Linked DNA regions of Homo sapiens. The protein of the gene in region 1 interacts with the protein of each later gene in a pairwise test. Each region holds a gene or a part of one and is shown on either strand. Other genes may lie near its edges.

Region 1 (7,888 bases):
ATTCCTAAAATCTTATTATTTTAAAACAACAGACTTACTTATATTAACCAAACATATAAATATTACTCCCATAAAGTGTCATTATATGTTATAAACTAAGGCAAAATATTTAATACTTTAGAGACTTATAATAATATTTTAAAGTATAATGAAAAAGTAATTTGTTATCCTGCTTAAAGGCAAGAGTCTATTATTCAAACACAAGAGAAGTCTAGAGAAGATTCTGATAACATCAAAATAGCAATATTTTAAACCAAACACAAGATTTTAATATATTTTCACTTAATAAAATTCAAACCATCTGTCATCTCTATAATAATTTGACAAATAATAAGCATATAGTCTTTTTTAATGAACTTACCTGATCAAATCGTAGAACAGGTTCATTTGCATTATCAAAACTATACACTTCCACCATTCCGTCATCTCTCCCAACAAGTAAATCTTTAACCCCATCACCCACAATGTCAAAGCTGTCAATACACAAAATACCTTTAAAAAGAGATATGTGATAAGTTATTAAGAAGACTAATAGTTATGGTCAAGTATATGCCAAGTAAGAATGAAAAAAACACACATACCGACTCAGAATGGTGAGCAAAAAAACTTTGACCAAAATCAAGTGCTCTTCTCTTGTCCATCCACATTCATCTATTTCCAGGTCTTTAAATATAATCTGTGTGAGAACGGCCCCTACATTTATATCTCCCTCCAGCTCTGGCCAAAGCTCCAGACTTATATATTCAATTTGGTATCTTCTCACAGACATCTGCATCTAAAACTTTCCATACCCCAAACAAAACTCTTTATTCCCCTCTTTACCATACCCCCTCAATACTGCTCCTCCCTCTGTCTTCCCCCATCTCCATAAATTATTCTACCTAGCTGCTCAGACAAAAATTCTGGGCCACATCTGATTTCTTTCTTTTTCTCACCACCCCTCATATCAAAACTGCTAGCAAATTCCATCTTCTCTACCTCCACAATATATACTGAAATTGTCTATGTTTCCAGCTACTGATAGCCTAGACTAAGCTAGCCTAGACTAGAATAAATTATAATAACTCTTCTAACTGGTCTCCATGCTTCCAGTTTTGACCTGTTGCCCCCCGCCCCCTCCAATCCATTCTCCAGTGTCCTTTGTTTTGTTTAGGCTTAGTAAATTAAGTGTCACACTCCCACTGACAATTTTCTAATGACTTCCTACAGCACCTAGATTAAAATTCAAACTGTTTTCCAAGGCTTACACAATTTGGCTCTACTCTACCTCTCTGACTCCATCTCCTGCCATGTTAACGCATTTAGCCAAACTGACTGACCTTCCTACTGTTCCTCAAATGAATCAAATCTACCTCCACCTCAAATCTTTCACACTTACTTTTTCCTCTTCCTGAAACATTTTTTTCCCCAAATCTTCATATTGCTAACTCTTTTTCTTATCAATCAGATCTCAGTTCAAATTTCACCTCTTCTAAGAGGCTATCTTTGACTACGTGGTCTAAAAGTGACCCTCCTCCTTCTACCATCACTCTCTAATACACAGCCCTGTTTTATTTTCTTCAGGTGACTAGGTAAAGCTGTCTTATGTATTTATTTGTTTTTACTCTGTCTCTCCTAATAAGTATTTGTTGAAGGAATAAATGAATATATGAACATCCTGAACATATACATAGGCATCTCACTATCTACCTAATCAGTTATAAATTCTCCTTAGAAAGGTATAAATTCCTTAGAAAACAGGAATATTCTCTGACCCACTGCACTTCTTCTTTGCCTCATAACAAAGACTCCCAGATTCCAATTAATTCTGTACCTCAAACAACTAAATTACCTCAGACAATTAAAATCCAATTAAAATTGGATTTTAGCATAAAATGATATTAGCCTATAAAAACGTATCAATACCAAATTACTATCAGCATTTCTTACTTTTAAAAAATTATGCCAATAGTATAATAGACCTGACAAATAAACAAATAGTAGATAAATCAAGGTGTGAATTGCTAAGTCTGCTATGTAGTATAAATAGATAAAATAGAATAAATTATATAATTTAAGATACTTAATAATCATTGACACCTCAGAATCTGAACTACATGAAAAGCATACCTCCTCTCTTTTTCTCATTTTGAATTTCCCACTTGCGTACTGGTTTGGATGTAGTAATCTGTATAAGCGCAAGTTTTCCGTCTGATGTCCCAAACAAAAGGTCTTCTCCAGAGTCACCTACTTATAATTAAAGTCAACATATTATATTTATCCTACAATTAGTAATCTCTTTAAAATTAAAATGTTGTTATGTAAAAATATCATTTTAAAAAGTACTATAAAAAGATATAAAACTTAATTGTTGAGAATGGTTATATATTCACACAATTTTATAGCTATAAGAGATAAGACATTTCCCCATTATATAATTTTAAGATGAAGAAACTAGGTTGGGTGCCGTGGCTCATGCCTGTAATCCCAGCACTTTGGGAGACTGAGGTGAGAGGATCCCTTGAGCCCAGGAGTTCCAGACTAACCTGGGCAACATGGCGAAACCCTGTCTCTATAAAAAATACCAAAAACCTAGCCGGGCATGGTGGTGTGCGCCTGTAGTACTAGGGAGGCTGAGGTGGGAGGATCCCTTGAGCCTGGGAGGTCGAGGCCGTGGTGAGCTGAGATTGTACCACTGCACGCCAGCCTGGGAGACAGAGTGAGACCCTGCCCCCCAGCCCCCCAAAAAAGAAAAAAACGGAGAATTAAAAGTTCAATAACTCGTGCTGTTAGTTACTGGCAAGTTACCAGAAAGACAACTGTCTCAATTCTAGTTTATGTCCTTTCTACAATTTCCCATTTTCACTTACTATTAAAACACATAGTTGATTTGTGAAAAATAAAATCCTGATTACCGCCATTTCCATTGTGTAGTGCTAAGACAGTAGGGGGTCCAGGAACTTCAACTGCATACATCACATCAGATCCCTGAAGGAGAAGTATTTAAAAACTGAAACAGAATACAAACTGAAAATAATAGAGGCATTCATGAATAACATCAATATTCAAATACAGTACTCTTAGTAACACCTAGAATAAAATTGCTTTAAAAATTAGGTTACGAATACAACTTGCATTTGTTAGCAATTTTGCATATATCAACTGATTTGAAAACAACATATATACACATATATACGTATAAATGTATACATATATACGTATATATACAGATATGTACACACATGTATACATATATACACATATGTATACATATATGCACATGTATGTGTATATATGTATATGTACATATATGTACATACATGTATGTGTATATATGTATATATGTGTACATGTACATGTGTATATGTATATGTACATATATATGTGTGTATATATATATATATAAAATGTAAAGACCAAGAAGAAAACATTTAAAATATTCTCTACCTTTAATACATTTTAAATACATTGTTTGCCTGAAAACTTGACACTGGCAGATTTTCCTATCAAGTCTCTAGGAACAAATTATTCCCTCTGCCCTCTCTAGGTTAACTGGAAGTCTTTAACTTGGAATACATCCAAATATTTTAACAGACACAAAGTTACTTCCTAAGGAAAATTTTGGCCTTGCCTTTGGGTATTCCCAAAATCTGCTCCAGTCAGAGGCTGAATGACCTGCTACTTAGATAAAAAAACAAGTTAGGTCCTTATATATTTATCAGTTTTTCAATTTTGCTACTTGTAATGCTTGTCATTTTGGGCACAGTATTTGTGATGCTGTTAAAGAATGAGTTAGAAGTACTTATACTCACATGGAAAAAATATCCATGATCTATAATTCAATGAATACAAAATTTGCAAAATGGGGTGTGGTGGCTTATGCCTGTAATCCCAGCACTTCCGGAGGCCAAGACGGGTGGATCATCAGGTCAGGAGTTCAAGACCAGCCTGACCAACATGGTGAAACCGTCTCTACTAAAAATACAAAATTAGCCAGGTGTGGTGGTGCATGCCTGTAATCCCAGCTACTCAGGAGGCTAAAGGAGGAGAATTGCTTGAACCCGGGAAGCAGAGGTCGCAGTGAGCCAAGATTGCACCACTACTCCAGCCTGGGCGACAGAGCAAGACTCCATCTCAAAAAAAAAAGAAAACACAATTTGCAAAATTATAGTTAATATGGTATGACATTTTTGTTTTAATGTTTTTTTTTTTTTGAGATGGAATCTTGCTTTGTTGCCCAGGCTGAAATGCAATGCTGTGACCTCAGCTCGCTGCAACCTCCACCTTCCGGGTTTAAGTGATTCTCCTGTCTCAGCTGCCCGAGTAGCTGGATTACAGGTGCAGGCCACCATGCCTGGCTAAGTTTTGTATTTTTAGTAGAGACAAAGTTTCACCATGTTGGCCAGACTGGTCTTGAACTCCTGACCTCAGGTGATCCATCTGCCTCAGCCTCCCACAGTGCTGGGATTACAGGCGTGAGCCACCACATCAGGACTAAAAAAAGTTTAATGTTTATTTAGAAAACGTAAGAAAGCCATATGCTTTATCTTTTTTTTTTTTTTTGAGCCAGGATCTGACTCTGTCATCCAGGCTGGAGTGCAGTGCAGTGGTGTGATCATAGCTTACCGCAGCCTCGACCTTCTGGGCTCAAATGATGTTCCCACCTCAGCTTCCTGAGTAGCTGGGACTACTGGCATGCACCACCATGCCCAGCTAAATTTTTTTTAAGAGATGGGGGTCTCGCTATGTTGCCCAGGCTGGTCTTGAATTCCTGGAGTCAAGTGATCCTCCAACCTCGGCCTCCCAAAGTGCTGGGGTAATAGGCCTGAGCCGCTGTGCCCAGCCTGTTTTATCTTTTATTTAAAATATCATATTAAAATTTACAGATATCTACACGTAACTATATAAACACAAAAGAATATACACAAAACTGTTAAAAAGAGGCAACCTCTGGAGTAATGGATTATTCACAGAGATAGACGGGGAGTGAGAAAAAAGCATGCGGTGCAGAGGGAAAGACTTCAACTTTATTTTCTACAGATCTTTAGTAATTATTTTAAAAATAATAAGCATATGGATCTCTTGTCAAAGCAGAATCCTAGAATTCAGTCAATTTCTAATTGAATGCTAAACAGCTCCTGTTAAAAGCCTTGTTCAAAACAATTCATATTTAAAAGCATAGGCTATGGGGGAAATTAATCATTCATAACTCTAAAATGAACCTTTTTTCTTTTCTTTTTTTTTTTTTTTTGAGATGGAGTCTCCCTCTGTTGCCCAGGCTGGAGTGCAGTGATGCAATTTCAGCTCACCGCAACCTCCGCCTCCTGGGTTCGAGTGATTCTTGTGCTTCAGCCTCCTGAGTAACTGGGATTACAGGTGTGTGCTACTGCACCCAGCTAATTTTGTATTTTTAGTAGAGACAGGGTTTCACCATGTTGGCCAGGCTGGTCTCAAACTCCTGGCCTCAAATGATCTTCCCGTCTCAGCCTCCAAAAGTGCTGGAATTACAGGTGTGAGCCACCATGCCTGGCCTAAAATGAACCTTTAACATTACTTTGTCCCTGGGGGGTAAAAACCTCATAGACTCACTGGATTTTTCCTTTTACAAAAGGGCTGATGCCAAGAAATGGCCATCTGACTATGGAATTCCAAAGAGTGAGATAGCCTGTGGTGGCATGGACTTCACAGCTCAACTTTTTCATCAACTGCACCAACTATATCAGCCTGTTTCTGATACAGTTCATCTAACTGTTACATGCTATTTACCTTTAAACATTATTTTAAGCATCCTATAGAGTGTGTGTGTGTGTGTGTGTGCATATATTTTATTGAAAGTCACTCTCAAGAAGATATAGTGGTAACTATTATTACTCATAACAATGACCTGAAGCAGTTGTTTTAGCCAATCGTGGTTTTTACCAGAAATATAAGGACATCAAAATGAATTTTCCCTCTATCACTCATTTACTTATCCAACATATATTTACTGAGTGCTTATTCCATATACTTCCATAAACACTGGATAAACTCAAGTTATATAACATCCTCCCTCCAACCCAATTTCTTCCTTTAATTTGATTTTTGGGGAAGATAAAGGTGATGGAAGAAGAAAACAAAACAAAAAGGCAGGTAAAGGTTCTCTGTAGTCAAAGTACTCCATTCTGATAATAGCTCAGAAATTGTGTATGGTGAGGCAAAAAAAATCCTTTTTCTTCCAAATATGCTTCTCTTAAAAACTTACAAAACAACACATTTGACTCAAGTTAAAAAAATTAATATGTCAAATTATTTAAAAATTGTTTCCACATGTTTATAAAAGCCCTTAAAACAGTAACCACTAATTTATCTCAAGTACATAATGTTCATTGATATTCTTTCACATAATATAAAAAATTAGAAAAATACAAATAACAGCAACCTGTAAAACTCTGAGCACTCTGTCCTGGCAGGCCAATACAGGTGTGATACGAGATAATCTTTCCACTGGAAGGCAGATCACATCATTGATTTTATCCCCAGAAAGGTAATAATGTTGGTCTTTGCAGTCACAATAATGGTTATAGATGTAACTTGCACTGAGAAAGAGGTCTGAGCCAGATATGTGCCTGAGAACATTAAAATAGTAATTTTTAAAAATAAGCACAGGTACTGAATTTTTTTCAGAGATAAAAACAGAAAAATGTATACAGTTTACTAACATTTTATTATAGACTTAGAGAACACAGTTTTTAAAACTTTCTCCTAGTTAATTCCTAGTATTTTTGGTATAACACTGTTTTTGATTTTGAAAGCTGAAAATGAGGATGTTAAGGCCTCGGGCTTCTCAATAAAAACTGAGCTCAGAAAAATGGAAAACAAAGACAAGATAATGATAATTTAACTGTCTATATCCAAAGACAATTAATACATCAAAAAATGACTTCTTTGTGTACTATGTGCCAAGCACTATCTTAAGTGATTTTTATGTATTAGATCAATTAATCATCATAACTCTATAAAATAAGGACCATTATTATTCCTTTTACAGGTGAATAATAAAATGTAAAATAACTTGCCTAATGGCACCTAAGTATTAAGTAGTAGATTAGACTGCAACTCAGTTTTTTGCTCGAGTTAGCTTTCTTACTACCACACTAAATTGCCTGAAAAAGTCTATTTTAAGTGATTCTACCTCAAACTAAATGATAAACAGCAGAAAAAAAAAGATTTCATTAGAACTTTATCTTGAAAAAAGAAATGAAAACAAGTTTATTTCATATTACATTTAACAAAATTTAGTCAATAGTCATAACTATATTCTAATTCTTAGACTGAACTGAGTTTTCACTTGGGTGAGCTAAAATGTCTTGACAAAAATTATATTTAAGTGTGATATATTTTTCACTTCTAGGTTGTTATTACCATATTTATCATAAAGAGGGTAATTTTATTTGAATGTTTCATGTATTCCTCTACCTCCAAGTTCTATTAAAAAATTTTATATTAAAATTATTCTCTGAAGAGCTTATCCTATAATAATCCTCCCTGATTTTCTATTCTTCAGTTATTAAGTGGCCTCACTTTGTGGCTCTGCATATGATTGAATAGTCCTCTTACTATTTTTATCAATTTCATGAAATTCTCTATGTTTTTCAAAATTTTAAATTCCATTTTGAAACCAATCTGTATTATATTTGCATTATATTGGCCAAAGTACTATTTAGCAATCTCTATTGTTGACATGAGTGGGGATACATGGCAACATTAAGCAGGAAAGGATATGTGGTGACTAATGTTAAGTGGTCAGTTTCCTTACTGAATATCTTCAAGTTATAACTTTTGTTTTCCTATAAAACCTTACAAATGTGGGGATTCAGACAATCAATTTTCAAAAATTGAGTAAAGAACTTTTCTATCCCATCTTTGCCAC
Region 2 (8,803 bases), on another chromosome or scaffold:
TGAGAGCAAAAACTGTTTTTCCATTCATATATCTCTTATTAGGTACAATATAAATCATTAAAAGACAGGTTTGCTGAAAATACCTTAAAGAAAGCCCAGTGCAACTCCCGGCACATAGTAGTCACAAAACTTTCAAAGAGAGTGCATATAGTTATCTCATTCTCTCCAAATGGCTGCATTATGCTACATTTCCTTTTAAGAATGCAGCAAAATATATTTAAACATCACCTCTACTGGAGGTCACTCAAGCTGTATGCTATTACAAGCAACACTGCAATGAATATACACATGATCCTTTACATTTTTGCCAATCTGTTAGATGAAAATTGGTATGATTGTGTTTTAATTTGTATTTCTTTGATTATTAGGGATGTCAGGCACATTTCGTGTTCACTGGCCATTATTTCTTTTATGTATTTTCTATTCATATCCCTTGACTATATTTCTATCGGTTTGTCTTATTCTTTTGCAGAAGCTTTTCATACATGGATAGGAATCTTTTCTCTTTTATATTGGCTGTAAAATTTTCTCCTTGTCATTTATTTTTTTAAATTTGACTATGGGGTCTTTACCATAATTTTACAATTTTTTTTTTTTTTTTTGAGAGAGAGTCTGACTCTGTTTACCCTGGCTGCAGTGCAGTGGTGCAATCTCAGCTCACTGCATCCTCCACCTCCTGGGTTCAAGTGATTTCATGCCTCAGCCTCCCAAGTAGCTGGGATTACAGGCGTGTGCCAACGTGCCCAGCTAATTTTTGTATTTTTAGTAGAGATGGGGTTTCACCATGTTGGCCAGGCTGGTCTTGAACTCATGACCTCAAGTGGTCTGCCCACTTCGGCCTCCCAAAGTGCTGGGATTACAGGCATGAGCCACAGCGCCCAGCCATTTTTACAATTTTTACATATGAAATATAACAATCTTTTCCTCTATGGCATCTGTCTTTTGTGTCCTGTTTAGAAAGGTCCTCTCTAACCCAAGAGATAAAAAACATTCTCCAAATCTTCATGTTTTTTTGGTTTTGTTTTCCTTACATATCTTCTAAAGTAAGGTATTTTTGTGAATGGTGTCATATAAGAATCTAATTTTTAATGTTAAAGTTATTGATGGATTAAAAAATGCACACAGTAGTCATAAATTCATAAGGTAACTAGTTATGAATAGACATAACAGAAACAATCTGAAACGTCACATTTTCATGCACTATGTATACATACACATACACAGGGTATCTTTTTGGACTCTACTTAGTTTCTAGTAATTTAATCTGTTTGTCTATTCTTGAGCTAGTACAACATAGTTCATTTTAATATATGTTTGGAGAAAATTCACCTCAGAAGGTAAGCTTCATGAGGGCAACCTACCTATCCCTTAGAGATGATTAAATGAGTTAATACATGAAAGCAATTGGAACAATTCCTGGCACATAGTAAGAGCTCTCCAAATGGTTATTATTAAAGCCCAGTTCTACCATCATACTACATTTTAAGACCATCTTTGCTGGCTGCCTTCTTATATCTTTGGTTCACAACTGTATTCCCAGTGGCTAGACTAGTACCTGGCACGTACTAGGATTTGCTAAATACAGGTTGAAAGTATGAGTAAATGCACAAACCTCAGGCATTCTGAGCCTCAATTTCTTGACTTTCTGTTTTTCTCTTGTTACAATAGAGAAAGCTCAGATTTATAGTTGGAAGCCTCTCTAACGTAAAATAGGCTCAAAACAGTTTGTGCCCTCCTGGCTACCGTAATAAAACATCACTAAATCATTATTGTCATCAACAAATATGTGCAGAGCAGTATGGTAGATGCAGGGGATGCAAAGATTCTACACAAGACATACTCTCTGCTATTGTTCTGGTTGGGAAAGAAAAGTATGTTTATGTACATGTGTACACACACACAGATACAAAAAAATATACTTAAGAATATCAGATATATGTTAAATGCTAAATAGATGACACAGATAAGAATACAGGCCATAAAGTCAGAGGACTGGGCTTCTCTGAACCATTTTTCTTGCTGTAAACAAAATAGCAATTCCTACCTCCTAGAATGATTCTATTTAGAAGAGAAGGCAGCCACCAAGATGGTCTTAAAATGTAGTATAAGTGTAGAGCTGGGCCTTAAATAACCATTTGGAGACCTCTTATCATGCTCCAGGAATTGTTCTAATTGCTTTCATGTATTAACTCATTTAATCATTCCAACAACTCTAAGGAACAGATACTATTATTTTTTTCCCAATTTGAACAATGAGCATACTTAAACTCTGGAGAATGTAATTAGCTGGCACAAAGTCACACTGTTAAGTATAAAGCAGGGGTTCAAACTAGAGCCACCATCTGCCTTAAAGCATTTAACTACGATATGAAACAGCTTCGGCACACCTTCAAAGGGTAGGATTTACACAGACAGGTTGAAGGAGACATAACCACCTACCCCAAAATCAATTGACAAATGTGCCTAAGGCAGAAGGTGAGGGAGTGCAGTTGGATTGCGTAATTACCCTGAAAAACCACCTGTTATGGAAACCATCTGTAAACTTTCTCGAGTGTTTCTCCTATAATTCAACACTTCTCCCATCTTTACATTAAATTCATGAAATTTGACACAAAAAGACAATTATTTATCTATTTTAAGGCTACTACCCTGTTGCCAGGCCACCGGGTCCGGCCCAGCCTTGATTCTTCGGGAATCACTTCTCCCTCGCCGCGCCTGTTACTGCCTCCACGGATCACTGTGAGGAAAATAAATGAAAAGGAAATTCAGTGCGATCCTGTTGCGGCTGATCCTAAATGTCTGCAGTTGCTATCTCCGAATCCTCTTTCTCCTCCCCACTACACATCCCCTTCTCCAGTCCTAGGACCACAAGAAACTTCCTCTGGTACAAAAAGGTCAGAAAACGATTACTGAGGTAACAGCGTCGCTTCAAGTCTAAGGACCGAGATTCTGGGGCCTCTGGGCTCCTTTACTCCAGATTCTAGACCCGGCTTTCGCGCTACCAGGCCTTGGATAAGACACTAGGCCCTGTGCCTGGACACTGCACCTCCCCAGGCCTCAGTTTCCACACCAGATCTCTACAGAGTGGGCGTGAGGGCAGGCCGATTCTCCCGTTAAGAGCTCTTACAAGCCGGCTGACTTCGTCCAGGAGCCTGGGGTCCTGGCCTCCTGGTAGGCGCCCTGGGGCCCTCTCCCTCCCCAGCCACCACCTCAGATAAGTTACCTCATCCTCGCTTCGCGTTCTTCCACTAAAGAACCTGGGGCTCCCACGCCGCACTACAGCGCCGCGGCCTTCCGGGGCAGCGTGCGTCGCGACGCGGGAAGGGGCCTGGAGGCGGGACTAGGAGCCTCGGAGTCAAGGGGCGGAGCGCCCTTTGCTAATAAGCCAATCAGAACGTGAGACGCTCCGGTGGGGCGGTGCGCGTCGAGCGCGGGGTGGAGTCTGGGTGACTTGGCTGGCGGGATCAAGTGCAGCTGCTTCAGGCTGAGGTGGCAGATAGTGAGCGCTGGTGGCGGAGTTAAAGTCAAAGCAGGAGAGTAATTATGAATAGCGCAGCGGGATTCTCACACCTAGACCGTCGCGAGCGGGTTCTCAAGTTAGGGGAGAGTTTCGAGAAGCAGCCGCGCTGCGCCTTCCACACTGTGCGCTGTGAGTGAGGACCATCCGGGGATAGAGGGGGAGCCTCCCGGGATGGGGGTGAAGAGGCACAAACCCCTCTGGGTTTTGTTCCCACAGTACCCCTTACACTGTTGGAGACTACGGGGCGGGGAGGGGGGAGGCAGCGCGATCCTCTAACCTGCTCGGAGTCTTAGGGGGTCGGTGGAAGGAATCGGAGTAGAGCAAATGTGGGTAAACCCTGGACAGAGAGCGTTGAGACCAGCAGACAGGAAGGGAAAGTGTGAAAAAAGTCTGTAGAGGTGACTGTGGAGACAGACGTGACAGGTGGATGATGCAGGGGTGGACAGGAAAATAATAAGGTGACAAATGGGAAGGGACTAAGGACCGAATGCCGGGGAACTTGAATGCCTTGAGGCTGGTGGGGCAATATTCTCTCTTTTCATCACTTTTTCTCACCTCTGGCAGATGAGGGTTCTTATTTGGTGTGTTCTTTGCAAAGGGAGAAATTCTCAACCATCCCAATGATCTGTATATCTCTTTGGACCCCAGATTTCACTCAGTTATCAAATACTGATTATCAAAGTATTCGAGGGTGTGTTATTAATTTCTTTATTTGGAAGATGCTTACCTCCCTATGATTTCTACCCTTTGGTTTTCTTTATGTCCTCTGGAACTAGTTTTAATAAATTATTCTCTTTTATGTTGTTGGAGTAGAAAAAGGAGCTCTTTTGCTTTAGCAGTTGGATGATATAGATTCCAGGAAGGAAAATATAGCATATAAGTTTTTATGTGTAAGACATTCGTTTTTTGCATAACAACTGTCATAGAATTGTAGAGCGGGAAGGAAACTTCAAGATCACTGAATTATAACTTCTCATTTTTCTGTGGTAAAACTGTAAGTATTTTTTCACTTCCTTTCCCCAGCCTTGCCCTTCCTTAATATCTCATCATTCCGCCTTTCTCAGTCATTCTGTTCTCGGGTTGTTTAGAGACCTTTATGGTTTTTACTCTGAAATGTTCCATGGTTCAATCAAAACAACTAATTAAAGCATACATTCTCCCAAAAGTTTATTTAAGTTGTAGACAATTTAGTTATAGTTACTCAAAGTAAAGGTATGAAGAACCACTGGTTTTAACCCTGCAAGAATATATTTACTAAAAGGGTTTTTTTAAAGCAAAATTAACATCCAATTGGTAGAATAAATGGGTGAGATATTTGTGAACAGAAACTCTTCAACAGTGTCCCTTGTTTATTCTTCTTTATCATATACTTTCTCATCCAGAGCTCCCCACGATGAGATGGTGCTGTGCTGGCTCTGCAGTTTCTCTCTCTTCAGTCCCATTTTCCGGAAGTGTGATATGCGTCTTTATCTGGTTTTTCCATGCCTTTTTCTCAAATAGTATCTACTCTCTCCTTTTCTCTTCCTTCTCAGGTATGCAATAGTCTTAATATTAATTTTTCAAGTTACAAGGGCTTAAGATTATAAAAATTTGCTTAAGAATATATTTCTATATGATTTGGGTATATATTCTCTTATGTAGGGCACAAATCCCAATTTAAATGAATAAAAAATTGCCTTTGAAAATAATCTTGCAGGTCCTTCACAGCCTTTCATTTATAAAGGTTCTGAAAATGCCAGTATCTTGAAAGTCAGAGGATCAGATGATCCAGCTACCAGAATGAAAATAAACAAAAATAAGCAAAACAACAATAATGACAATAATAAATAAACAAACATACATGTTTGAATACACACTTAGTCCTGTGGAAGACAGAACTATTAGAAAAGTTTTCAGTCCTTATTTTCTTTTATTGTTGTTGTTGAAGCAGGTGTGGTAATGGCACAGAATCATTTTAGATTTATTTAAATAAAACTGTTTATTATTCTTGAGGACAGGTTCATTTCCAATGTAATCCTCACTCTTAAGAACTCAGAGTGAGGTTTGAAAATTGTAGAATAGTATGAAGCTGATGTTCATGCAGATAAGGGGGACCTAATTTATAACCAACCCTCAAGCCAATGTCATTGGAGAGAAAGTAATATTCTGCCTTTATTTACAGGAGCAATTCTGCCTGTCTGATATAAGACTTCAGGCAAACCCGGATGTGAATCCTGGTCTCCACCACCTATATATATAATGTGACTTTGGGAACATTCTCTAAGCTCTCAACCTCAGTTTTCTTATGGCTAAAAGATAATAGTAATATTTACATTTCATGGTTTGTGTAAGGATTAAATAAGATAGCATAAACAACCTGGAACAATATTTGCCACAGGGTAGAGAATAAATAGTAGTCACCATTAATGTTGAAGAGTTATATTCATATGTGTACGAGGGGTGCTAATGAATGTAATTTAGTCAGACTTTGAAACAGCATTTATCAGAGTTTAGCAATAAAAACTATCAAAAAGATAGTCTGGCATGTGGTAGGAAGGGCATGGGATGTTCTATCAACGATAAGCTGAATGCTTAGCAACAGGTGCTTTACCGGGTAGAAGAGTTTCAATAACAGGACCTACTAGAATCAATTTTGAATTGGGAGTAGTACTAGTTTTACTATTTATATCCAGATAAGGCAATGAATTGTGAAATCCTAAGTTTGTAAATGACACCACTTTTTTGTGTCCTTAAATGATGAGCTAATGAGCAGTGTGGGTTTTGGAGTTGGTTGAATTCATTCAAATCCCGGAAAATAAACTGATGATAATAATTGTGGATTCTTATGAAAATATTGGCATTATGTGATGTTACAGTTAAAATAATCAGAAAAGCGATAAACATTGGCAGAAAAGGTATTAAATACAAAGTAGAAAATGGTTTTCTACTCTTCATGCAATATAATAAGTAATTCCATTGTAAACCTGAAAAAATTGCATAGATGAAAGAAATCCAGAGAGAATAAATAAATGGTAAAGTTGGTGGTAGGGTTTCCAAACCAAGGAGAACTGAGAAATGAACTATTTAGTCTGGAATCATAGCAACTTGGAAGAGAATATGTTTGACATTTAGAAGCATACAGAAAGTATGAATATGAGATTAATCAGCAAATTCTTTAATTCTGGAACTCAACCACTTGAAACTCGGAAGTTATATACTTTTAAAAAAGTGTGTGAGGACAAAAGACAACACTGCTTGATATAATGGGTAATAAAGAGTAGAGTTTATTAATCCTAACAGTAGAATAATTAGAAATGTAAATAGATTCAGAATAGTTTTGGCAGATTTATTGATTATGAATTCATGTTTATCATTAAGTAAAGCTAAAGATATTTTGCATACATTTGTCTCTTGCAGATAATCTCATATACTATAGGCATCTATGTAGTCTTCAGGGACCTGTGAACCCCTTGGGATTGTACAGTATTTGATATGTATGTTCATATATGTATTTTTCTGTGGAGAGGATCAATGATTGGTCTATAATTTTCATCAGGTTTTCATAGGGATGGATTTATGATTGTCTCTCATCTCCTAATACTGCTCCCCATACACATACATACAAGTTAAGATCTGTGGATGTAAGACAAACAGGCTATATAATATGAGGAGATAAATTATGTGGCTTGAGTTCCTGACTTCATCATTTATTGACTTCATTACTTTAGAGGAGTTCTCCATTAGTAAAAGGTGGGCAAAATGTTCAACCCAAAATTTTTTTTGTGAAGATTAAAATTGATAGTATATTGTAAAGAAAAAAATCACTTCATAAACACTAAAACAGAGGTTATAGATTAATAGCATATAGGCTGAGCTTGACTTTAGAAGTGCTTTGTTTGGTCCACACCATTGTTGTTTTATCTTGAGTTAGTTGCAAATACCTAACATTCAGGACCTTTTATATAAAAAATCTAGATTTTCAGCTTATCTTTAAAAATCAGATGATAAGCTGGCAACATTGATCCCATATCTTCTCTTGGCAGCAGTTGGGTGGAGCAGAGTTATGAGATTGGGTTTATTCATCCTCCGTGTGACTATGATTCCCACTGGTCAGCTTGACTGCCTGGGTTACCCTGCTGGCCTCTCTAAAGCATCATTTAGCTGTAGTTAAATGACAACCATACCTTCCAGTATTTCCCTTTGTGTTACTGTGAGAAAAATATTAGAAGTCAGAGGGCCATAGTTTTATTCTGGGATGTCATTTCTAAGGTTTTAAATATTTATCATAAAAAATTCTTTATTGTCAAATATTAATAATGGATGCTGTCTATGAGAACAGAAGTATACCGGTGAAAAGTATGAAAGGAAAATGGCAGTCTAACCTAAAGAGATTGAGAGTTTTGAAGTAGAGATGAATCTGAGCCACAGAAAATAATTAGAAAACAAGTATTTTACACATAATTTGACACTTTATATATACTTAAAATAAGTTTAGAAGTGATTCAGAGAAGAGTGAACAATATGAACCTGAATGAACTACAAGATCTCTTCTGTATCCATTACATTAAAAGCACTGTGCTAGAGCCACTATGTGGAGAAATTAAAGTATGAGTACTATGCTTTAAAAAATTACAATCTAATAGGACATGTCCACGAAAAGGTAAATAATAGGTCGGGCACCGTGCCTCACGCCTGTAATCCCAGCACTTTGGGAGGCTGAGGAGGATGGATCACGAAAGTCAGCAATTCAAGACCAGCCTGTTCAAGATGGTGAAACCTTGTCTCTACTGAAAATACAAAAATTAGCGGTCGTGGTGGCGGGAGCCCGTAATCCAGCTTCTTGGAAGGCTGAGACAGAGAATTGCTTGAACCGAAGAGGCGGAGGTTGCGGTGAGCCGAGATCGCGCCGCTGCCTCCAGCCTGGGCGACAGAGTGAGATTCTCTCAGGAAAAAAAAAAAAAAAAAAAAAAGCCAGGCGCGGTGGCTCACGCCTGTAATCCCAGCACTTTCGGAGGCTGAGGCGGGTGGATCACGAGGTCAGGAGTTCCAGACGAGCCTGAACAACATGGAGAAAGCCCGTTTCTACTAAAAATACAAAAATTAGCGGCCTGTGGTGGCGCGTGCCTGTAATCCCAGCCACTCAGGAGGCTGAGGCAGGAGAATCGCTTGAACCAGGGAGGCGGAGATTGTAGTGGGCCAAGATCGCGCCACTGCACCCCAGCCTGGTGACAGAGGGAGACTTCGTCTAAAAAAAAAAAAAAAAAAAAGAAAAAAAAAAAACGGGCCGGGTGCGGTGGCTCACGC
Region 3 (7,888 bases), on another chromosome or scaffold:
CCCTGCTTGAGAAAGCAAGCAATGAACCTACCAGAAAAGTAATGTCTCAGTCTTTTCTCTGCTTAATTTGCCTTAAAGCAAACTGAGAAATCAGTTTGCTTTTGCTGAAGCTAGTTGGGCTAGAGATAAGTGCTTTAAATACGTAAGGAAGGCAGTGAAATGTTGAAGAAATACATGGATTGTGGGCATTTGGGCAGACTTGGGATGCTTGGTATTCTGAAGTGGGAGAAGAAGTGCTGGCTGCCTGTGAGATAACAGAGGTTTGTTTCATGAATAGAAGCAGATTTCTGGACAAACAGAAAGCTTGTGGCTCTCCAAAGAATGAGGGCTAAGACCTTGAGTTAGAGAAGAAAGAAGGCCTTACCAGGAACAGCTGCAGGAACAGTACGGTGGAGAGCTGTTACGGTGGCCATAGCTACTTGTTCTGGAGTATACTTCTTGGTGCAGGCATGTCCAGCAGTCACCATGTTGGGCTTTAGCAGGGTGCCCTCCAGGTAAACATGATGGTCATTCAGGGCCTTGTAGACAGCAGCCAGGACCTGAAGGACAAGAGGTCCCACCAGGTGAAACTCAAAGCTAGTCATAGAGCCACTTGACCTTGGCACATTTACACTGCAGGGAGGCAGGATGAAGGAATTCTTATTTGTTGCTTGGCAAAAGCTTCTGAACCAATCTCCAGGCCTCATTAGACCAATGTGTTGCAATCCATAGCCACTGAGCACAACTAAACTGGCCTGTCTTCATCACCCCTAATCTAGCTTCTCATTCACTGCATGAATGACAGGCATGGCTCTGCTTCCTAGAAGCCCTTCATTCCTTTATTTCCATTACTCCCTTGGTCAATGTCATTCCTTATTGAGACTGCATTGCTTTAGCTATTTGGGGTCATCTAAACGGGCCTCCACTGTCCATGTTTACAGAAGCTGAGTAGTCATAGAATCATACATTTTAGAGGTGGAAGTGCTCTTAGATTGCATTTCAGTCCACATAATTTTCCAAGTAGAGAAACTAAGGTCAGGTGACATTATGACTCTCCTACTTTCTCACAGTGTATGAATAGAACCACCCTCTTTCAGATCCACTGTGGCTAATTTAGAAAGTCAGATGGAATAAAGTACTTTCTAATTACATCTTCTCATTTGAGCCACATGTCTTATTTTAAAATTTCTTTGTGTACATGTAATTGAATTGAAGTCAAAAGAGATAATATGACTTGCCCAAGATCCCACAAGTGGAAAAGCGGATTCTCCAACCCAAGTCTTGGTACTGCAACTCCTGTGCTTTTTCTATATGGAGTATACCATGTGCCAAAAAGGTGAAGGGCTGATGAGCACCTCCCTACCTTCTCTATGCTATCCATCCTAAAGGCTACTTCAGATATAACAGCTGTTATATGTTAAGTAACAGCTGTTACCTAAAACTAAGATTTTTCAACTAGAATTGGGGCCTTCATATTTAAAACTTACCTTCTCAGTAACATACTGGCAGTGTTCCAGGTCATGGTCTCCATCAGGAATTACCTCTGGTTCAACAATAGGTACCAGTCCATTCTAAAAAGGAAAATCAAGGAAGCAAAAGTGAAGCTGTGCTCACTGTTATCCTTTCCTTAGGAGGAGATTCAACAGTTGCAATTGGTATAAATTGAAGCCATTATGGAGAAATACTACATAGATGACTTAAAGACAGTAGAATTTTTCAGAATGAGATAAAAAATAAATACAAACCCGTAATTACTGTATTTCTTTCTAGAGATTATTCTAGCTGCCTCAGAACCTAGCTACTGCCTTTTTAGGGCATCTAAGCATAAATCATTAAGAAAGATGTCTCTAAGTTGGGTTAATGAAGAAATTCAAGCAGTGTTTAGAGTTCTAATTGGGGATCTCCAGCTGTCCACAACTCTAGTAACCCCAACATAGTACTCACAGAAGAAAATCAAACTTAACTCGGACCCAGAGACATTTTAGTATGTGTTGGAAACTTTAGCATCTGGTCACCATCCTCCAAAGAATTATTTGGATTGGAACTCGGTCAGAGCTGTCACTCTTCAGCTAGGAATCTAAGAGGATCATGTCTTGGATGTTACGGAGTATAGACAACCAAGTTCCCTGCCCTCAAAAGCCCGATCACTTATAAGACAGCTTATGGAGCTTTGACAGAGGGCAGCAGTTGATGGCATTATCCTTTGAACTCATAGCTTAGTTGGACTCCTACTGGCTTGTGGGACCAAATCTTTCCCTACCACAGTTGGCTATAGCAAAAGTTGTGAAAAATGCCACTAGGATATACTGGTGAGGGAAAAGGAGGTCCATTTGTAGTTATAGTATAATTGAAAAGAAAAGCTCTGAAGAAAACTCTAGCCTACTCTTTTTCAGCCCAAGGGGAAGGCAGAGCACCTGCTGACAGATGCTGGCGTAGCGAGCCAGGGCGTTGGCGTTTTCCTGGATAGCGAGGCTGGATGGACACTGGTCGGCAATCCTCAGCACAGCACGCCACTTCCCAAAGTCAACACCATCTTTCTTGTACTGAGCACAGCGCTCTGAGAGGCCATCAAGCCCTGCAAGTCACAAAAGAGAGAAAGGCTTCTTTGTACCTTTGTACCTGATCCATGGGGCTTCTAATAAAGGGAAGGAGTTCTCCCTTTGCTTAGCTTTCAATCCACTGTGCTTGAGGATTGAAAACAGCCAAGCATATCAGCATTAATCACAACACTGAACCAGAAGACTTAGATTTAATAAATAGTGTTTTGACATACATACTATCTACTCCATATATAGAATAGAAGAAACCAATAGTTAATATGATACTCATTTTACAAAGGTGGAAACTGAAGCTCCTAATGGTTAAGCAACTTTACCAAGTTTGAATTGCTCAAGAGTGACAGAGCTGGGATTCAAATTCTGCTTAGCTAACCCAATGTTGTGAGTTAATGCTTGTCTACTTGGGCAGAAGTACCTTGCAAAATTATCTAGGTAGCATGTGATAGAACCAGGATTCAAACCCAGGTGTGTCTGACCTCAAAGTGTGGGGACTTTCCACTCTACTGCTGCTAATTTTTTTCTAAAAATAATACTTCCGGGTGCAGAGTTTAATCTTCTTTGTCCAAGGTACTGTGGTAAGCACCTTATGTACATTGTCTAAGTTAATCCCCACAACATTTTGAGAAATCCCCATTTTGAGATAGGAGAACTGAGGCTCACAATATTTCAGTGACTGGCCCAAGGTCACAGTTGTTAAATGGAGGAGCTGGTATTGAAAACCAGGTACGTGTGGCTCTAAGACCAGTGTAATAGTTGTGTTTTGTTTTTCCTTGCTTCCTTCTTTACTTGCCTTCATTTCTAGCTTACACTGGCATGATTCATCTCAGTGGGCAATATCCTTACCTTGAATGGTGGTTTCTTTGTTTGTTCCTGCAAGAGGAGCACCTCCTTGGTCTAACTGTGGATACAAATAATTAACAGGTGTCAGATGTCAGGAAAACACAAGCAGAACTCTTGAACTAACTAACAGTTTGCATCTTTTACAGATCAAGGAGTTGAATTAGTAAAGTGTATTAGTGCGAGGGACCCAGTTCAGTCCATAGCAGAAGGGAAGTTACCTAGAAGGTACACTGTGAGAGTGTCTACCCTAACATTTATTGAGCACCTGCATGCACCAGGTGTTGTGTTAGTACAGGAGGTAAAGAGAATTAAGGATACAACCTCTACTCTCTACATAGCAAAGGCAAAAGTCATGAGCTTGAGAATTAGCCTAAACTGGCTCTGACCTTGCCTTGTTGTGTGGGCAAGTTATGTTACTCTTCGTAGTTCAGTTTTCTCACTTCATCTCTAAATAAGGGTAATAATTGAGTCTACTACCAGAGGTTATGAGAATTAAATGAATGCTTGGAATGGTAAAAACTCTTATTCAATGGATACTAGTTTTCACTTTTGAGAAGTTTATGCACTATTGGAAGACCTAGTTATAAGATAGAATAGTAAATGCTTCAATAATTATGATAGTTACCATTAACAATAATTACGCAATATAAACTTTTTCTTTTCTTTTTTCTTTCTTTTTTTTTTTTTTTAGACAGGATCTTACTCTTTTTTTTTTTGAGACAGGGTCATCCAGGCTGGAGTGCAGTGGTATGACCATAGCTCACTCCAGCTTCGACCTCCAGGGCTCAGGTGATCAATCTTTCCACGTCAGCCTCCTGAGTAGCTGGGACTACAGGCATGCACCAACACATCTGGCTAATGTTTTTGATTTTTAGTAGAGACAAGGTCCCACTGTGTTGCTCAGTCTGGTCTCAAACTCCTGAGCTCAAGCGATCCTCTTGCCTCTGCCTTCCAAAGTGCTGGGATTACAGCAGTAAGCAACCACGTCCAGCCTAGAAACTTTTAGTCATTTCATCCCTGTAAGAACATCATGAGGTAGATTCCCATTTTAAGAAATGAGATTGAGATGCAAAGAGATTAAGAACGTGTAGAAAATTTGAGTGAAAGAAGAGGGCACTGGAGGAAAACTCTAGAAGAGGATCTTGTTCTCTGTGGGAAGATGACGATGGAAAAGGGTGAGAAGAGAAATTTGATGAGGAGAATGTTCAGAGTGTTGGCCCTGTCCTTGCCAGTGTGCTTGGAGTTTGCCTAGGACAAAGCAGAAGTGAGGTGTGAATGGAGGTGTTCACCTTGATTCCCACCACGATCCCCTTTTCCTTGAGGATGTTTCTGAACAGCTTTCCCTGGCTGTCCTTCTGGTAGAGGGTCTCGTGGAAAAGGATCACACCCCCGATGCTCTGGTTGATGGAACTGTCCACAGAGAAGAGGATTTCTCGGAACTGCCGGCGGTTCTCTTCAGTGTTTTCCACCTTGATCCTCTGCAGGCGGTTCCCCATGGTACCTATGGTGGGAGGGCCAAGGGCAGCATAAGGAGCAAGCCAGGGCTTTCCTGTCACCCTTCTCCACATCATCTCAGAGACCCTCACCACAGTGGAAAGCAAGACTTTCTTTTTTCAGATAGTCAAAGCTCCTGCTTCAATTTTTTGTGTTCCAGGGAGAAGACCCTGGTTGCTCTCAGGTGGCTAGTTAGGGAGTATGTGGGCTGGGCATATAGAGGTCAGGGTGGAAGCCACCCTCAGGTCCAGGTGGATATGGAAGGCCCTCAGGCCTCTCTAGCCTCCCTGATCTGGTCCTCAGTCTTGCTGGATGTACATGCAGAAGGAGGGATGGGGCATGCTCTTGATTCTCAGGGTTCTGTGATTTTATGGCAGGCTGTGCAACTCTGCCACAGCTCTCCCTTGTGCCATCCTGAGGTTCTCCCATCCATAAGCCCTGTCCTATTCCAGATGCAGATACTTTCCTGCCCTTCTTGACTCAACTGAATTTAAACTGACTTTAAACTGACTTCTCACTAGTAGCAGATGCCTGTGTATCTGACCTTATGCTAGTTACTAAGTTTCTGGCCTTACTACAAGGCTGGATTCAAATGACCCCTGGCTTAAAATGAAGGGCTTGAGCCTCTTTCCTTGGCTTTCAGGAATGTGCCTACTACTTACAGGACTCAAAAGCTCTACGCTTACTGAGTCTTCTGCTCCCACTCCCGTGTACATAAACCTTTACTTCCATAAAGAATATGATTATCAAGTTGTTTTTGCTAAGTGTAGAAAAAATAATATGTTGTTATATGATGAGACTGCTTTTTACACTCACCTACAGATTCATCTGCAGCCAGGATCCCCTTTCCATTGGCAACAATGCTCTGGGCAATTTCTGAGAGCTCCTTCTTCTGCTCCTGGGTGAGGGCTGGAAATCGGTGGGCCATGGTGACAGGTCTGGAAAAGAGTGTGCGAGAGTTGTGCACAGAACCATGGGTGGCTCAGATGGATGCATGACCAAGACAGTTGGGGGTGCAGACATGCTGTGCAGACCTCTGTGACACCTCTGACCCATTTCCACAGGTGGATAAGCAAATGAGGTTTGTTTTTCCCCCATCACTTATTAGTTGCAATTAGCTGCAATGAATGAAGGTGGGTTACTGAATGTTCATGGTGATCCTAGACAGAATGCTTTCCAGCAGGCCTTTGGAATCACTAATCAAAACACTGAACCAGCTAATTAGTGACCCACTAAAATATGACTAATAGAGGGGACTGCAGTAATGGACTGTCTCTCTATTCTGTGGACTCCTGGTGCCACTGGATTTCCTTAATGGCTTGAGGCCAGGACAATGTCGCTCTTGACCTCTGCAGTTATCCTCTGCTTTGCTCTGTTAGTCTGTAGTTCCAACAGATTATTCTCCAGGAAACAAACTTGAAAGGAGAAATCTATACATAGTCTTAAAGCTAACTTCCATTTGGCCTCGGGCTACAGAGGGTTGGGTGCAAGTTTCCTTTTCCTTATATTCAACCCTCTATGAAACCACTTGGGGCAGACCAGAGAGGATGTTTCCTAAGTGCCTCTGGGCTTGGGTTTCTCACTGCCTATGAGGATGCTAAAGTTGTATGGCAGTCCCTGCTCCAGCTTCACTGCTTTAGCAAGGGGAGACTCTGGCTTGAAGACCCCCTAACCAAGCAGCCTCCACAGTGGTTGTGCTCTGAAGGAGATCGTTGCCCCTGTTCGGATGCCACTTTGGGTTAATCTTGAAAATGCAAGCTCAAAGAGCCCTCACTTTGGGTGTTACAAAGAGTGCTTTTTGCATAGGTTGGGCTACCAAAGAAAAAATGGTAATGAAGATTATCTTGGGTAGCTTCCTATCCAATGCCAGGGTCTCCTCCTTTCTCTAATCTTCTCTCCCTCCAATACACTCAGCACAGGGTGGATGCTCCATGTCTACATATTACTTCCCGGAAGCCCAGGGACACCTCAGGTCTCATCTGATCCATTGGCAATGAGGTAATTATAGCAGGTATTATCTTCATTAATTAATGAGCAAGCTAAGACGTAGAGAAGCTAACTGACTTGTTCAAGGTCCCAGCTAGGATGAAGCAGAGTCCCTATCCAGTCCTGTCCTCATGACAAATATATTTCTCCACATTTTCTGCATCCCTTCAGGGTAGGCTGTCAGTACTCTGTCCCTTGATATAAAAAGTCAGTAGCCACTGAGCTAATTCATGAGAAGGTATAACTGATGATCTCATTGTTGCCTCTCCATTTCAACAGAGGTTCTTGTCTTACCCCAAAAGAATGAAACTGCAATGCTGTTACTGGGGTAATAGGACAAGCTAGTGGGCAACAATTTCTAGAGAAGATGACCTTCTAAGGCCCATTATGTCCCAGCCACCAGCAGAGCATGTTTGCCCTGTTTATATATTAGCTGTAATATTGGAGTCAAAGACTTTTAGCTTTGGACCTGGCCTCCAGATCATCATGCTGAAAAAAGCCAACCTGGGTGTGATCTTCAGAGCAAGGTGCAAACTTTCTCTCTCAGTTTAGGCATTTGTACAAAGGAGTTGACAATTACCAAGAAAGAAAGATATTTTCTTAATGAAACAAAAGGGAAAATCAGCCCAATAATAATAATAACAACAAGTGATCATGTATTGTCAAGCACTCTGCTAATGGCTTTACATGCACTATATAATTTTTCTTGAAAATAATCCCAGAAGGTGGTTGGGCTCTTTTCCCCTCCCATTTAATAGATTAGGAAAGAATATAAGAGAGTGTAAATTATTTATCCAAGGACAAATAGCTAATAAGGCATCAAGTTGAGATAAGGGGCAGTACTCCTTTCCATTCAAGGGAAAGAGTGAGCTTGATGAAAAAAATGGCCTTTGGATGACTCCTAATGTCCTTGATGACACCCCAGAGTACCTTACGCTGTGGGTGATTACACCATGGACATTACTTATTCATAAACATCTGACACATTTATGTAGAGGTTTGCTGCTAGCAGATCAGACAGACCTAGTTTT
Region 4 (8,565 bases), 870 kb from region 1:
ATTCTCCTGCCTCAGCCTCCTGAGTAGCTGGGACTACAGGTGCCTGCCACCATGTCCAGCAAATATTTTTTATTTTTAGTAGAGACAGGGTTTCACCATGTTAGCCAGGATGGTCTTGATCTCCTGACCTCGTAATGCGCCTGCCTCAGCTCCCAAAGTGCTGAGATTACAGGCATGAGCCACCGCCCCTGGCCAATTTTTTTTTTTTTTTTTTTTTTTGAGATGGAGTCTCACTCACTCTGTTGCCCAGGCTGGAGTGCAATGATGCGATCTCTGCTCACTGCCACCTCCGCCTCCGGGGTTCAAAAATTCTCCTGCTTCAGCTTCCCGAGTAGCTGGGATTACAGGCGCCTGCCACCACGTCCAGCTATTTTTTTGTATTTTTAGTAGAGACGGGGTTTCACCATGTTGGCCAGGCTGGTCTCGAACTCTGATCTGCCTCCCTCGGCCTCCCAAAGTGCTGCGATTATAGGTGTGAGCCACTGTGCCCAGCCACAAACCAATAAATTTTAAAATCCAATGGAAAAATAGGCAAAGGACTTTGTTAGACAATACACAAAAAGGAATAGACAAATAGAGTCTAAACATGTGAAAAAACACTCAATGCCTCTCATAAGAGAAATGAGCATGAAAAATGTATGATTTGCAACTTGCCAGACTGACAGAAATCAAAAAAGTTTGATAATACTTTGGGCATTTTCATATAGTATTTTTGGAAATGTAATTTGGCAAAAATCTTTTTAGAAGGCAATATCTATCAAAAATAAAAATATTTAAATTAAAATGCATATTGATTTTAACCCAATCACTTCATTTGTGACAATTAATTGTACAGGTATTCCCAAATTAAACATATGTATAAGGATATTAATTTAAGCAAAACGTTGGAAACTAAAATGTCTCCCATTAGAAGACTGTCAAATATAATAATTGATATAATGAATTATATGGCCATTCCATTCCATTAGAATGGAATATTATACAGATATTTTATTTGTATTGTTATGCAACTATTTCTCAAGTTATGTAACTATTTCTCAAATATATACACAATGTGTATAATATGCTATCATTTGTGAAAAAACTATTCTGTATACATATGTATATGAATATGCATTCTCTGTAATGATTCATTAAAAAGTGGCAAAAATCTTTGTCTTTAGGAAGAACTGGGGCTTGGATAGGAAGGAGACTTTTATTCAGAACTTTTGGAACTTGTTCATGTATACTTTTAACCATTTGAAGGCTAACATTTTCACATATGAAGCACATTTAATAGGCAAGTTTTTCCCTGGTCTAGAAGAAATGTTACATAATTAGAAATCAAAGACACTGTGAAAACACTTGAGAATGCTCATGAGCACATACAATTCTAGTTTCAATCAAATAAAACCTCTTGTGTTGACAAGACAAAATTAAAACCTTCAGTTTTCATTTCAGTTGTGCTAAAAATGAACCAGGTAGTGTCACTATAGTTAATTTTCTATGAGTCTTTCTTGCTCCAAAGACAACTTGGTTATCAGAAAGTGTTTGTGTGGAGCAAGTGGCATCTGTTGCCTATTTGTCAGGAGCAGAAGTCTGAGCACTTCTGTCCACTGCATCTTGTTTCAAAGTCGCCAAGGAAAACAATGCAGTGAAACACTGGGTGGAACACACATTACTCACATACAGAAGAGACAGAGCAAGATCAGCTTCCCTAGTGGACTTCAGTCTCCCATGACCAGAGGGTCCCTCTTGGCAGCTGACACAGGGCAGGTGGCCTGCAAACACTCCTCTTGTGCTGAAGGACCCCCATCCCCTCCCCCACAGGAGACAGAGCAGTGGGGTTGGTCAGATGCCATATGATGCACACACTTAAGCAGGGCAAAGGACTACACATTGACTCTGAAACAGAGGAAGATATTACTATACGGGGTGGTAAGTTCAGCACAGGCTCTGTGGACTCCTAGTCTCTTCAAAAGAAGTGTTCCAGGCCCAAGGCCCACTCTCAAACAACTGAGTAGGAGTTAAAAGACTGTATGTATGAGATTCCGTTTCCCAACAGTTTGGCTCTTTCACAAGGAAGAAATCACAAGAGTCACAGAATTGAAAATGAGTTAGAAAATACACAGTTATCTTGAAAGTTTTATCCATAGGGAAGCAGCATAATGAAGAATAAGAACTTAAGATTTGGAATCCATGTTTTATTTCTTATCAATGGGCAACTGGGGAATTTTTAAAACTTCTCTGAACTTTAGTTTTCTTGTATGTAAAATGGAGCTAATACAATCAGCTTCCAACTTGTAATATGTTTACTGAGGTTAACACATAAAATCTCGGCCAGGCACGGTGGCTCACCCCTGTAATCCCAGCAGTTTGGGAGGCTGAGGTAGGCAGATCATGAGGTCAGGAGATTGAGACCATCATGGCTAACACAGTGAAACTCCGTCTCTACTAAAAATGCAAAAAATTAGCTAGGCATGGTGGCAGGTACCTGTAGTCCCAGCTACTCGGGAGGCTGAGGCAGGAGAATCTCTTGAGCCCAGGAGGCAGAGGTTGCATTGAGCCGAGATCGCACCACTGCACTCCAGCCTGGGTGACAGAGGGAGATTTTGTCTCAAAAAATATATAAATAAAATTTTTTAAAAATAAAACTCTACACCACCTGTCCTAGCACAGAGGTATTAAGTGCTCACTATAGAGTCAAACTTACAGGGAAATATGGGTGATGTAAGTGCTATTTTGAATTTTCTTTATAACTAAAAGAAGAAAATTAGCAAATAATGTTTCCAGACAGTTCTATTTAATACTTTATGTATTTGAGTAACTGACTAAAAAGCAAATGTTCATCAGGTTTTTTTGGGTTGCACAAAAGGAAAATATAAGTTTTGTTTGCCAAATTCATTTGGATGTGAAGCCAACTTCATCAAACTTTAAAATTCTAAGTCTTTGTGACCTAAGGTTCTCAAAAGAGCAGCTAGAATCAATACTGTTCTTGGATTAATGGCTCAAAGAAGTCATTATGTTTTGTTTCTTGATGCTGTAGATTTAACATCATATTGGTAGAGATGTGTAACTTCTTACATGGATTAGACATCAAGAAGCCAATGTGTACATATAAACTAAAAACTGAAAATGAATACATTCAGATATTAAATTATAAAACTGCATAACAAATACAAATTTGTTAATTTTCCACAAGGACTAAAACAACGCTATTAATAACGAGTAGTCTTTTTCATCACTCTCAAAACATCTTCCTCGTTTATTTCTCCATCTCTATCATGATCAGCTTCATCAAGCATTTCCTGTAAAACAAAATGTAAATATATGAAATACATTTAAAATGACATAAATGAAGTCAAACACATATTCAAAACCAAATTTTATTTTAAATGCATAAGTGCAACTAAAGTTAGAATTATAATCCTAAATTATCACATAAGTTATAATTACATATAAATTATAATTATAAAAATAAGCAAAATCTACCTGAAGTTCATCATGTTAAATTTTCCCCTGGTTTCTTAGCAAACCTCTTGATACCGGTTAGTATTATACTTCCAGTATCATCATCATCAAATAATTTGAAAGTCTTCAATATTTCTTCTTTTTCATCTTTTTTACTCTTTTAAAAAAGAAGCAACTATCCAGTCTTTCATTTATTTATTTTATCAAGCTGGACTTAATTAGATCTTTGGGGTCTAAAGCAGCAATGTGCCAAGTAGCTGTGTTCTGATTTTATTTATTGGTCTTTTAACAATTATGTACTCACACCTGCCCTCAAGGTGCTTAAAGGTAGAGCTTGCTAAGGTGGAGAAGGCACAGGGTGGTCCAGAATGCATCTCTTATTAAACCTCATAATTCAGATCCGTTACCAAAAATGTAAGCTTCAAAATGGAAGGTTGTATCTTTCAATGCTCCTTAGAATAGTGCCTGGCAAAAATAGGCATTCAATATATGTTGCTGAATTAAAGGCTTCCAAATTCTGGCCCCATTCTCTCTATCCTGCAATATAGCCTCATTATTTCCTGACAAAAACCTCTTCTCCACATCATAGTCTTCTCATTACTACCCTGAAAACATATTTAATCTTGCTCTTCCTATCTCCCATCCTTAAAAACCTAGTTCTAATTGCTTCTCTATAAAACTTCTGATTGCTCCAGCCCTAAAATGTAGCAGGTTATTGCTAGTATTTCTTTGAAAAATAAAATCATAACTATATCATTTTTATACTCATAATGGCAAAAAAAAATCTTCAAAACTAATGGTGCCAATTCCTTCTTTATCAACTTCAGCTACCATTTTTTAAATTTCTTCTTTCTTTGGTTCAAATCCTAAGGCCCACACTGCAATCTGAAATAGGAAGAAAAGGAATTATAATATGCCATGATTTCTTTCTAAGCTTTTTAACTCCCTATTAAGAGCTTCTCTCTTTTCTATTATGGACTGAGCATAAACAGAAAATTAGGTCAGCAGGCCTGTGTTTCAGTCCTACTGTGCCATCATGTACATCACTGTTACACCCTGGGCTTTTGCCTACTCATTTATAAAACACAATTAAAATGCTTAACAAGATATCGTTTTGCTAATGCAGGGCAGGCATATGCACTGAAGAGACTTTATATTAAGCTTTCAGAAGACTACTTTTAAAGAAAGCCTTAAAGATTGCCACAAATAATATGGTTTTTAAAATGATTTAGAATTAGAAATAATTTCAGAACCTTCTTTTACATCGATGGTTCCAGACCCATCAATATCAAATAAATTAAAGGCGTCTTTAATTTCTTGCTTTTGGGATTCATTCAGTTCAATTTTTGCTGCTCTTTTCTTCCATTGGTCTGAACTTGTATGGTAGTTAGATGCCTGTAATACACACACATATGGGTGAAAGATAAATTATATAACTGGAATAGTTAGCAGAACCAGAATAATTGATGATAAACTATATTAAAGTACCTATTTCCTACTATAAAATGAATCTCAACAGGAGTAAGGAAGGAGTGCAGTTGCTGCCAGGGGCAGCCTTCCTTGCTCTGGCGGAAAAACTTCGGCCCCGGCCCCAGCAGAAGGTTACAGCTTCACACTCACCAGGTCCCCAGCCGGCAGCCGGCGCTCTCAGCCGGGACCTCCCGGCGTCACCTCCCGCAGCCCCGCCCAACCCAAGTCTTCACAGCTCACTGGCGGTTGCTAAGGCCGCTCTCACCGACCTCTCTCAGCCCCGCCCACCCAGCCTGAGTTATTGACATCCAGTTCATCCAATGGACAGAAAAAAAGGCCTTTAAACCAGCCCTTTCTCTCTACTCCCTACCAATAGCGTGACGTCCCCGCCTTTCGCAGCCCGGCGTTAAGCGGAACTTCTCTCTCCAGCTGTGTCTCTTAGCAACTAAGCCCCCGGCTCCTCCAGAAGCCCCTCTTCGCACATGCGCAAACTGCGGACGGGGAACTGGGCTCCCTAGCCCTGGCGTTTTTGGTGTTGCTGTCCCAGCCAGAATCGCGTCTGGCCGGTGGGAAGCCGGGAACTCCAGCCCCCTGTAGGAGAGGAGAAAGGAGCGAGGTTAGTAGTGAGGTGCTTCCGCTGACTGCTAAGCTAAGTCTTTCCTGAAGACGTGGGAGCCCGTGTGTTTGATTTTTCTGTCCTCTTCGGGCCAGGGAAAGAATGAGAATCTAGGGCCTGGAGGTCCTGGGGTGAATTGGTCCAGCATGTGGCTAGGAGTACTAGAGGAAGAGGGGACTGCCCTTTCTTTTTGCCGCTAGACTTTCCTCATTTTCTACAGTGCCTGGAGCTGGGCCTTCAGCCATTTACCTCCTCCCTGTTTTGGGCAGGGATTCTGGCATGGTAGACACCAGAATTCTGTATAGCAGTGGCATGGGGTAACAGTGTCGTTGGAGGGACGTGGGTATTGGGATAAGCATGGGTCTTGGGATGTATTTAAAGCTTCACTACATACATAGATAAACGTTTTTACATGTTTCGTGTAGCATTTGTTTACGAGGTAGGACTTTGGCCCCACCCATAATTACTATCGGACCCCGCCCTCCAACCCCAACACACACACACACACACACACACACACACACACACACACACACACACATCCAGCCATTTCCTTGGCCCAGTCCTAAGATTTGGCCAGTTGTCAACGATATCAACTTGATCTGCACTTCAGAGTCAGACACAGGTAGTCTGATTATCCAGTTGATTCAGTAACGGCCTAGATTTAGATACTTGTGAAACTTTTGTAAACCAACTCAATCTCTTGTCCAGAGGGCCAGATTTACTGCTTCTGCCCGTTCTGAATTTGGCCAGGAATCAGCTTAAAGGACAGGGGAGAAAGACTGAGGTAGGATGGACCACTGACTTCCTGGTGGGAATGAAGGAATGAGAGAATCTTAAAACTTCTAACCTTTAATTGCTCACACATGCGGACCCCTTTTATGCCTCCTACAATGTCTTCTCTAGAGGAAATATTTTCTAAAAATTATACTGGATTCTTCAAAAATGGATTCAGGAAGAATACTAACTTTAGTCTTTTTTTTTTTTTTTTTTTTTTTGTCTCACTTATCTTCCTGAAGGCAGGAGAGGAAAACAAGTGCAAAGTGCATTCTTGAAGCACTCTGTCAAATCACTTTTCATGCTTCATTGAGTAGAAACATGGCACATTTTCCAAAGCCATCAGCCTGTCTTGTTCATATTATATCCCAGACAGACACGCAAGTATTGTAATCATTGATAAAAATCTCATTAGGCTTCTGGAAAATAGGTAAGTTTATCCTCATATTGCAGGTGATTTTTCCATATAAAGTTACCCAGTGAAAATTAAAATGGCACAAATCCAAGATAATTTTTGAGTTAAGTAAAATGTGGTCACTTTAATATATGATTTTTCACGTCATTTATCTCACTTGGAAAGTTGCTCTTGATCAGTTTCAAGGTCATACACTTTTTTTTTTTTGAGACCGAGTCCTGCTCTGTCGCCCAGGCTGGAGTGCAGTGGCTCAATCCCGGCTCACTGCAAGCTCCACCTCCCGGGTTCTCGCCGTTCTTCTGCCTCAGCCTCCCGAATAGCTGGGAGTACAGGCGCCCGCCACCGCGCCCGGCTAATTTTTTTGTATTTTTAGTAGAGACGGAGTTTCACCGTATTAGCCAGGATGGTCTCCATCTCCTGACTTCATGATCCGCTCGCCTCGGCCTCTCAAAGTGCTGGGATTACAGGCGTGAGCAACTGCGCCCGGCCATATACTTCATTTTTAATACTAATATTAAAAGGATTTCTTAGACCCAGAAATGAATAGTGACCAAGTATATACTCAACCCAATCCTAATTTCGAGGATCTCTTGGATCATGTTTGATCTAATGACAATTAAATGGCGGAGTAGTATATTAACCTATTTTTATATCACTATGATTTAGGCTTTTATATTTGGAATATTTACTGCTAGTTAAAATGTTTTTTTAATTGTAGGCTCAGATTCCAACTCCCAGATCTTGAATAGGATGTAATTAGTTTTGAAAACTAGCTATTAACGAATCTAACTGCACTTTAGAACATTAATCATCATCATTATCCAGGAAAACATTAAACACATAGGCACTCTTAAATCTCCCAAATGTATTTAATGTTTTCTATATGTCATGCACTATGCCAACTACTGGGTGAGTTCGAAAGAAATAAAAATAGAATATAAAAGATGAATAACTAAGGAATCTACAGATTAGTGGGGGAGCTAGACACAAACATAATACAATGTTTTTAATACAGGGTATTTTTAATCTGCTTTGGTAGATGGGTATAGAAAGTGCGTTGGGAGCACAGAAAGGAGGGACAACTCTACCCCAGGGCATTAGAGAAGTCCTGATAGGAAATGAGGCATTTGCGTTGGGTCATGAAAGATCTATAGCATCTATGGAGATGAAGAAAATATAGACTATTCAAATCAGTATAGCTTAGTGAAAATAAATATGTTCTAGCGTGACAAGATCATGAGGTTTATAAGGAAAGGTGGGAGAAGAGTCATAAATTAGGTTGAGGTTAGATTATAAGGCACATATATCAAGCCAAGGAGTAAAGACTTTCTTTTTTAAGATAAATAGATGTTTTTTGGCAGTGGAGTAATCTGTTTAGGTTTGTGCTTTTTCAGTGCTAATTCTGACCACCATATGAAGGAGGAACTCTCATTAGAAGCAATTAAAGGGCCTCAACTAAGGCGGTGCCAAATAGGAATCAAGTCAACTCCAAGGATGGTTAAAACTTATATTCATGTTGGAGAAATACTAAAAGTACCGTCTGTTTTCTCTTGCTTCAGTTTTGTACTTAAATTTGGGGGAACAAATATGGTGAAAAAAATTCATTCACTTACCAAATATTTATAGAGTACTTGCTGTGTGTCAGGCAATATTGTAGGTACTCGGGATATACATCATTGACTAAAATTGCCTTCCTGGAAATTACATTCTAAGAGAGAGATGTAGTCTATAAAAAATAAATAAGTAAACTATATCCTATTTTATAAGGGAATAAGTGTTATGGGAAAAAGAAAGTATAACAGATGGAACAAATCCAGAGTACAGAGGGAAAAGAGGA

Evidence for each region.
Region 2: the proteins of BBS7 (region 1) and IQCB1 interact in binary tests that used the Homo sapiens proteins (3 or more experiments, as listed by UniProt).
Region 3: the proteins of BBS7 (region 1) and ALDOB interact in binary tests that used the Homo sapiens proteins (3 or more experiments, as listed by UniProt).
Region 4: the proteins of BBS7 (region 1) and BBS12 interact in binary tests that used the Homo sapiens proteins (3 or more experiments, as listed by UniProt).

The regions. Positions count from the first base shown.
Region 1 is NC_000004.12:121,852,595-121,860,482, forward strand, and holds part of BBS7 (BBSome complex member BBS7), read right to left. Parts: intron 6,585-7,888; coding exon 6,398-6,584; intron 2,968-6,397; coding exon 2,895-2,967; coding exon of another isoform or gene 2,850-2,894; intron 2,230-2,849; coding exon of another isoform or gene 2,227-2,229; coding exon 2,110-2,226; intron 493-2,109; coding exon 362-492; intron 1-361.
Region 2 is NC_000003.12:121,831,743-121,840,545, forward strand, and holds the start of IQCB1 (IQ calmodulin-binding motif-containing protein 1), read right to left. Parts: upstream 3,319-8,803; 5' UTR 3,224-3,318; intron 2,738-3,223; 5' UTR 2,649-2,737; intron 1-2,648. Other genes in the region: EAF2 (ELL-associated factor 2), read left to right, coding at 4,914-5,052. UniProt on the Homo sapiens protein: Involved in ciliogenesis. The function in an early step in cilia formation depends on its association with CEP290/NPHP6.
Region 3 is NC_000009.12:101,425,089-101,432,976, forward strand, and holds part of ALDOB (fructose-bisphosphate aldolase B), read right to left. Parts: intron 5,810-7,888; 5' UTR 5,800-5,809; coding exon 5,688-5,799; intron 4,879-5,687; coding exon 4,667-4,878; intron 3,436-4,666; coding exon 3,381-3,435; intron 2,555-3,380; coding exon 2,394-2,554; intron 1,551-2,393; coding exon 1,467-1,550; intron 540-1,466; coding exon 365-539; intron 1-364. UniProt on the Homo sapiens protein: Catalyzes the aldol cleavage of fructose 1,6-biphosphate to form two triosephosphates dihydroxyacetone phosphate and D-glyceraldehyde 3-phosphate in glycolysis as well as the reverse stereospecific aldol addition reaction in gluconeogenesis.
Region 4 is NC_000004.12:122,727,349-122,735,913, forward strand, and holds the start of BBS12 (chaperonin-containing T-complex member BBS12), read left to right. Parts: upstream 1-5,355; 5' UTR 5,356-5,536; intron 5,537-6,555; exon of another isoform or gene 6,556-6,743; intron 6,744-8,565. UniProt on the Homo sapiens protein: Component of the chaperonin-containing T-complex (TRiC), a molecular chaperone complex that assists the folding of proteins upon ATP hydrolysis.